2 linked regions of the Homo sapiens genome follow. The protein of the gene in region 1 interacts with the protein of each later gene in a biochemical or structural test. Each region holds a gene or a part of one and is shown on either strand. Other genes may lie near its edges.

What was found.
Region 2: the proteins of FYB1 (region 1) and SH2D1A form a complex in vitro, tested with the Homo sapiens proteins (one study listed by IntAct).

Annotation. Positions count from the first base shown.
Region 1 is NC_000005.10:39,195,343-39,199,176, forward strand, and holds part of FYB1 (FYN-binding protein 1), read right to left. Parts: intron 1-3,834. UniProt on the Homo sapiens protein: Acts as an adapter protein of the FYN and LCP2 signaling cascades in T-cells. May play a role in linking T-cell signaling to remodeling of the actin cytoskeleton. Modulates the expression of IL2. Involved in platelet activation.
Region 2 is NC_000023.11:124,363,557-124,367,390, reverse strand, and holds part of SH2D1A (SH2 domain-containing protein 1A), read right to left. Parts: intron 1,631-3,834; coding exon 1,567-1,630; intron 1-1,566.

The sequences.
Region 1 (3,834 bases):
ATATGTAAATATCTAATAAGGTCATGTTAAGAGAGTACACATAAAAGGAGAATGGGGGGAAAAAGAAAGGTGATAGCTTTGGGGCCTGTGAAGGAAAATCTTACCCACTCCTGGAAACAAGTTACTTGCTGGTGAAAATAGCCCAGGCACCTTTTGGTTTCAAGTTGTTGTAGGCTGGATTAGTTAAATGATACATACACAGATGAGGAGGGGGCCATCAGTCTTTTGTTAATGCCCTCTGGGGCCCTCGCCTTACACCTGTTGCTGTCAAGGTGCTTAACTGATCATTCCTATAGCTAACATATGGAAAAAATCAGTCTTGGTCTCTCAGCAGTATTAAGAACAAGACTAGAAAAAAGGGTCAAACTGAATATTTCCCAGCAGGTTTTTACTAAATCATACATGCAAACCAATAGTCAGGCCAGGGATTCTTATGAACCCAAACTTTGGTGAGGCATTGTGTTGACACATGGGAAGAAGCCCTTTCAGAACTGGCTCAGGACCCAAAAGGAAGCAAAGGAAAGGTTAGTTCAGAGAATATTTTGATATTTTGGGTTTTTTTAAAAAAAACGTTTAGTCTTTTGTAACCTTAAATTGTTCTTAGGAAAAAAAAATTTAGCTTCATGATCAGAAAGCAACATGTTAGAGTCAAGCTTACAGTTTACAAGGAAGGGAGCTCAATAGATCTGCAAGATAGACCCTCTCTTATAACATTTATTTTGTGTCCAAGCTCCATTCAGTTGAGTACAAGTCTACTGGCAGGGGTTATCTATTGTGTTAAAACAATTGCTAAGCTATAGAGTATTAAAATCTAATACTGAACAAAATCTGGGAGTAAATAAATTCTAGTTAAATATAATTCTTTCTTTTTTTTTTTTTTTTTTTGAGATAGGGTTCGCTTTGTCACCCAGGCTGGAGTGCAGTGGTGCAATCTCGGCTCACTGCAACCTCCACCTCCTGGGTTCAAATGATTCTCCTGCCCCAGCCTCCTGAGTAGCTGGGAGGTGCGCACCACTATGCCTGGCTAATTTTTGTATTTTTGGGGTTTCGCCATGTTGGCCAGGCTGGTCTTGAACTCCTGATCTCAGGTGTTCAGCCCGCCTCGGCCTCCCAAAGTGCTGGGATTACAGGCATGAGCCACCGCACCCGGTCTGGTTAAATAGAATTCTGTGAAAGAATAAACTTGAGAAGCTAACAAAAATTTATATTACTTTTGTACTCCAAATGAGAGAATGGCAAGCAGACTGGCTTCTGTCTTCATGGAGCTTATAGTGGTATTTACAAAACAGACAACAAACAAAAGGCATGTTTCAACCAAAGGCCACAGAAAGGGAGAGGAATGAGGATTTTGGGAGTTTCATTTATGCTTGATTCATTGTCTTGTGATATTCTGTGTTTGAAGAGAGGCAGCCCAGCACGAGGAAGTGGAATGCGGGTGGGAACACAGTCTGCGGAATCAGAAAGACATGAGATTGACCCCAGCCTTGTTTAGTCATGTTATGCCTTTGGGCAAGTTACCTAACCTCTCTGAGCTTTAGTTTACTCATAGAATTCCTATTCATGGCTTGAGAGGAATAAACGGCATAATGTGTATGTGGTATATAGCAAGTCCTCAATAAATGATGAATATTTTTAACAGTTAATACATTGGGCAAAGATGATGAGATGGAGGGTATATCTGGGGAAGAGGTTTAAAGAATTGGATGAGAACCTGGAAAGGAAGAAATGAGGTAGAAGGCTATGAAAACAGTATTAGTTTAAAAGGCATATAGAGTTATTAGATGAATGTTTGTTAATTTGAACACTAGTATAATTACTTCTAACAAGAAAAAATAGTCTTTTTGGAGTCTCTGCATTCACTGAGCAAGGCATTTCATTTTGCTCCCGTCAATAACTATTAAATCTTAGTGAATAAATATTTAGTAATAGAATCTCATTTTTTCTAAAGCATAGAATCTCTCTTCTTTCCCATTTTATTACAAGCAAATAAATAATTTTCTAATTATACCATGCAGCAAATAATTTATCTGGAAGCCCTGTTATATGAAAATTCATGCCTAGTCAGGTGTGTTTAGGGCATTTTTTGTTGGAGTTCATGTAAAAACTCCAATCTCAAAAAATTTTAGGGTCTGTAGCAGCACACTAAGAAGCATTTTCCCTGGAAGTTGCCAATCTAAGCAGCTGTGGCCAATCATAATCCAGAGCAAATCCATTGGCCACATTTATTTATTTCTTCCAGGTTGACAGGTAATGGGGAAAGCAAATGCACTCTGGAAACAATGACCTTCGAAAACTGCCTTTGATAATACCAGTGTCTTGGGATAACAGCCATCTATACTGGCTTTGCAGCCTCTCCACCTCTGCTTGGCTGAGTCAGATGCCTTCGCTTGGCTTCAGCCAGTAGGAGATGGCAAAATCTGGGGGCACTTGTGACCTAGTGCCACTTGGGTGCCGCCTACTGCTCTCTACCAGCCTTTGCTGTAGGGAAGGAGGCATCTGAGCGCAGAAATTTCATGGACTTCTGGTGGGAAACCTCTCTTCCAACAATCATTGTTTGACTCTGGCATCATAAATCACAAATACATTTCTATATTACAAACAGAAGTAAGTAAAATGCAGTTTCATGATTCCTAGAATAATATAGTATAATATAAAATGATTTATACTATAAGATGATCAGAATATCATGGGGCTGGTGATAAAATTTTAATGCTAATAAAAGTAATAAAATTATAGACAATGCTCACTTATTTTGATACTATTATATGTCAAATTCTGTATTAAGCACTTACAACGAATCTCATGTAGTGATTATAATGTGCTGGCGAAGTAGGTGGTATTATACTCGTTTTTTCAAATGAAGAAAGACATACACGGAAAGAGGTAAAGCGAAGGTCACATAGCTAGTACATTAGTCATGCTTAAACCCCAGGTCCACTGACTTTGAAGTCTACATTATATGGCAAACAACTCTCATGCTAGGCTCTGTACCATTAATAACATTACTAATAGATAACCTGGCAACTCTGCACATTGGTTTAAAATGGGTTCATTAAACTGCTGTATCTAATTCATGGGACATTATAAGTAATAAAAGACATAAACATTTTGAAAGTCCTTTGAAAAAAGTTAAAATCCCATGTACATATTAGTAATAATATGTATACATACACAGATGGTGCCCTATTTATGACAGTTCAAATTAATGATTACTTGACTTTATGATGGTACAAAAGCAATATGCATTCAGTAGAAACCATGGTACAGTATTCAATAAATTACATGAGATAGTCAACACTTTATTATAAAATAGGCTTTGTGTGAGATGATTTTGCCCAATTGTAGGCTAATGTAAGTGTTCAGAGCATGTTTAAGGTGGGCTAGGCTAAGCTATGACATTTGGTAGTTAGGTATATTAAACGTGTTTTCAGTTTATAATATTTCCAACTTAAGAATGTTTATAAGGATGTAACCCGATCACAAGTCAAGGAATATCTGCATATATATTCTATATAAATAAATAATACACTTATGCTTTAAACATAAACATGCAAACATACATACAGGGGCACGATGGTACATGGAGAAAGTATTAAACTTGCAATCTGAAGACTTGGATTTTAGCCTCAGATATATGATTTGGTTATGTCACATCTCAACACTCATTTGTGAAATGGGGGCGATAATTACACTTAATAAAGAATTTTCCCATCTAAAGACTGTACGTACAATATACCACATGTTTATGTATACGTATATGTATATTATTATTTAATTATTTAATAATTATTTATTTTCTACTTACATACTCCAGAATTATAAAAAATAGAATTT
Region 2 (3,834 bases), on another chromosome or scaffold:
TGCTCTAGAGAAATTTTTTCCAGTCAGGTGGTATGAGCTCTGAGAATATACACTAGTTTAATTTTCACCTTAGAAAAGCACTGCTAAGAAGGTAAATTTAGTAGATAGAAAAAAATGCAATATGCATTTCAAAAATTAAAGAATTTTTTAAACTATTTTCTATTTGCGGATGTCATGCCAATCTTCTGCTCTCTTGGTGCAGAAAATTACAATATTATTACATAAACAACGTCAGATCAGACAACAGGATGAGGGGGCATTTGTGTTCAATAAGCCCTCTCTTCTTTAACATGATCACAAGCATGTAACAATCTCATATGATGTTATACTCAAAATGCAGGAAAACAAGTTGAAAAACAAAGTTGTTAAACCCTAAGCATTTAAGATCCTTTCCTTACATAATATTCTTCAGCAGCTGAAGGGTATTTCTCTGGGGAGAAGAGCTATTTCTGGCGAAATAATATACAAACGTGTGTGTGTGTGTGTGTGTGTGTGTGTGTGTGTGTGTGTGTGTTTGTCAGTATATTTTACACATAACTTTCTTCATAATAAAGTTTAATTTCTTATTCAATCATCTCTGCAGTGATACAGAGAATTTTTTAAATAAACAGGTATAAATAGTTTCAATTAGAAATGGTATAACTTTATCTTTAGTTAGTATTATAGTTTTAATGATCCTTACATAATACAGCAAAAGTGTGTTTGAAAACTTGGCCTAATTCATCTCAGTGGTTCAAAACATTTGTGGTCTGTAATTTATACTTTCCAACTTACTGATAAATCAGTAAACGTGAGAGCTATTTTAACTTCTTGAAGTCTAGACTTCAGAAAATTTTAAATGCACAGATTGAGTTATTAATAGGAGTTGTGGCAATTTTCAGGAGTTCACTTTTTTGAGGGCTCACTGTGTGCCAGGCCTTGTGGCAAACAGCTTCTTTATGTGTGTTATCTTATTTACTTTTCAAATTGAGCCTTGTGCATAAGGGAGGATTCTTAGGCTCCGTTTACAAATGAAGAAACTGGCTCACAGAAAAGTCAAGTAACCTGCCCAAGATCATAGACCTATCAGAGAGGAGGGGAGACCAGACCTGGAACCCAGATTCACCTGTTGACAAAGCCTAGTTTCTTCCACTCATAACTGTTTAATTTCAAGTTATAACTTCCCAAGTATATTGTAGTCTCTTAGAAAATAAGCATCATGTTTTTTAATCTCCCACGATACCAATACTCATATTGGTATCATTTGGTAAATAATTGTTCATTTAATTATTTTACCTACTTTTGATATGCTAAGATTTCACATAGTCACTAAAAGTTTGACATAATTCTTCAACTTTTTTATCTTTCTCCCAAAGTCATACAACTCTGCAAAATGATGGCTAAACAGGACTGGGACCAAAATTCTCTAAAGCTTTCTTAATGATCCATGAACAATTTTGGATTGGAGCTTTAGAGATTTAAACCTTATGAATACTTAATAATGTATAATTTGCTCTTTTATAAAACCAGCCTAAATTTCAAATACCTCCTTGACACCCCCAGAAGCAAAAATAAATACAACTATACCTCAGCACTCCAAGAACCTGTTTCTGTCTGGGACACTCGGTATGTATAAATGTAACCGTGATACCTGTGAAAGAATAAACTTCCATTACTGAAAGATTCCAAAAGAACAATGGATACTTTAAATTTGAGCTTAATATTACATATAAATGTCACATATACTAGGACACACGTATATGGTGTCATTGCATTCATAGGAAGTAAAGCATAGTGAATCTAACTTGTCTCCATATTGTATCTGCCCAACCACAGTTTCCAGTGAGATTTCTTTATCTTTTCATTTTTTGAAATATGGAAATTCATGCTCCTAAAGATTTGTCAAGTTGAGAGACCATTTGGACAGAAAGAAACTACAACAGGGACCTGTTGTAATTGATAAAACCATGAATTATTAGATAGTTTTAACAAACAATAGACTTATTTTTAAGTACATATCGAAACTTAAGGTGAAAACATTTCACTGGGATAATACACTATCAGGCCCACATAAATAATTATTAATATTAATAATATTTGTTATAAATATAATGGCAATAGTATAAGGATATAATACTATAAATTGAATATAACTATATTTTTATAAAATTACTATTATAATGTATAGCAATATAATATTGCCACAGTCATGCATCACTTACCAAGGGGGATACATTATGAGAAGTGCATCATTAGGTGATTTCGTTGTTGTGCAAACATCATAGACTGTACTTACACAAACCTATATGGTATACCACCTAGGCTATGTGGTATAGCCTATTACTCCAGGCTACAAACCTGTACAGCATGTTACTGTACAGAATACTGTATGCAATTGTAACATAATGGTATTTGTGTATCTAAACCTATCTAAACATAGAAAAGGCACAGTAAAATATAGTATAAAAGATAAAGAATGCTATACCTGTTGAGAGTACTTACCATGAATGGAGCTTGCAGGACTGGAAATTGCTCTGGGTGAGTCAATGAGTGAGTGGTGAGTGAATGTGAAGGCCTAGGACATTACACTACTAGAATGTTATGAACACTGTAAACTTAGGCTACACTAAATTTATTTTAAAATATTTATATTTCCCAGATCACGAGGTCAGGAGATCGAGACCATCCTGGTTAACACAACGAAACCCCATCTCTACTAAAAATACAAAAACTTAGCCAGGCATGGTGGCACGCACCTGTAGTCCCAGCTACTTGGGAGGCTGAGGCACTGAGGCAGGAGAATCGCTTGAACTCAGGAGGCGGAGGTTGCAGTGAGACGAGATCACGCCACTGCACTCCAGCCTGGGTGACGGAGCGAGATTGTCTCAAAAAAAAAAAACTGTATCGCTTCAATAATAAATTAATCTTAGCTTCAACTCTTTTACTTTATAAACTTGTAAATTTTTTTAAACTTTTTGACTCTTTTATAACACTTCGCTTAAAACACAAACACATTGTACAGCTGTACAAAACTGTTTTTCTTTATATCCTTATTCCATAAGCTTTTCTCTGTTTCAAAATTTTTATTTTATGTATTCTTTGCTATTTAAACTTTTTTGTTAAAAACTAAAACACAAATACGCACATTAGCCTAGGCCTACAGAGAGGGTCAGGATCATCAGTATCACTGTCTTCCACCTCCACATCTTATCCCACTGCAGGATCTTCAGGTGCAGTCACACACACGGAGCTGTCATCTCCTATGATATTCATATTCCAGAATGCCTTCTGGAATACCTCCTGAGGGACCTGCCCGAGGCTGTTTTACAGCTAACTTTTTTTTATATAAGTAGGAGTAGATTTTAAAATAATGATAAAATGTATAGTACAGTAAATACATAAACCAGTAACACAGTAATTTGTTATCATTATCAAGTATTGTGTACTGTATGTAATTGTCTGTGCTATACATTTTTTTCTTTTTCTTTTTCTTTCTTTTTTTTTTTTTTTTTTTTTTTTTTGAGATAGAGTCTCGCTCTGTTGCCCAGGCTGGAGTGCAGTGGTGCAATCTCAGCTCACTGCAACCTCCGCCTCCCGGGTTCAAGCAATTCTGTTTCAGCCTCCCGAGTAGCTGAGGCTACAGGTGCATGCCACCATGGCTGGCTAATTTTTGTATTTTTAGTAGAGACAGAATTTCACCATATTGGTCAGGCTGGTCTTGAACTCCTGACCTCAGGTGATCCACCCACCTCAGCCTCCCACAGTGCTGGGATTATAGGTGCGAGCCATCACACCTGGCCTGTGCTATACTATTATACAGCTGACAGCACAGTCGGTTTGTTTATACCAGTGTCA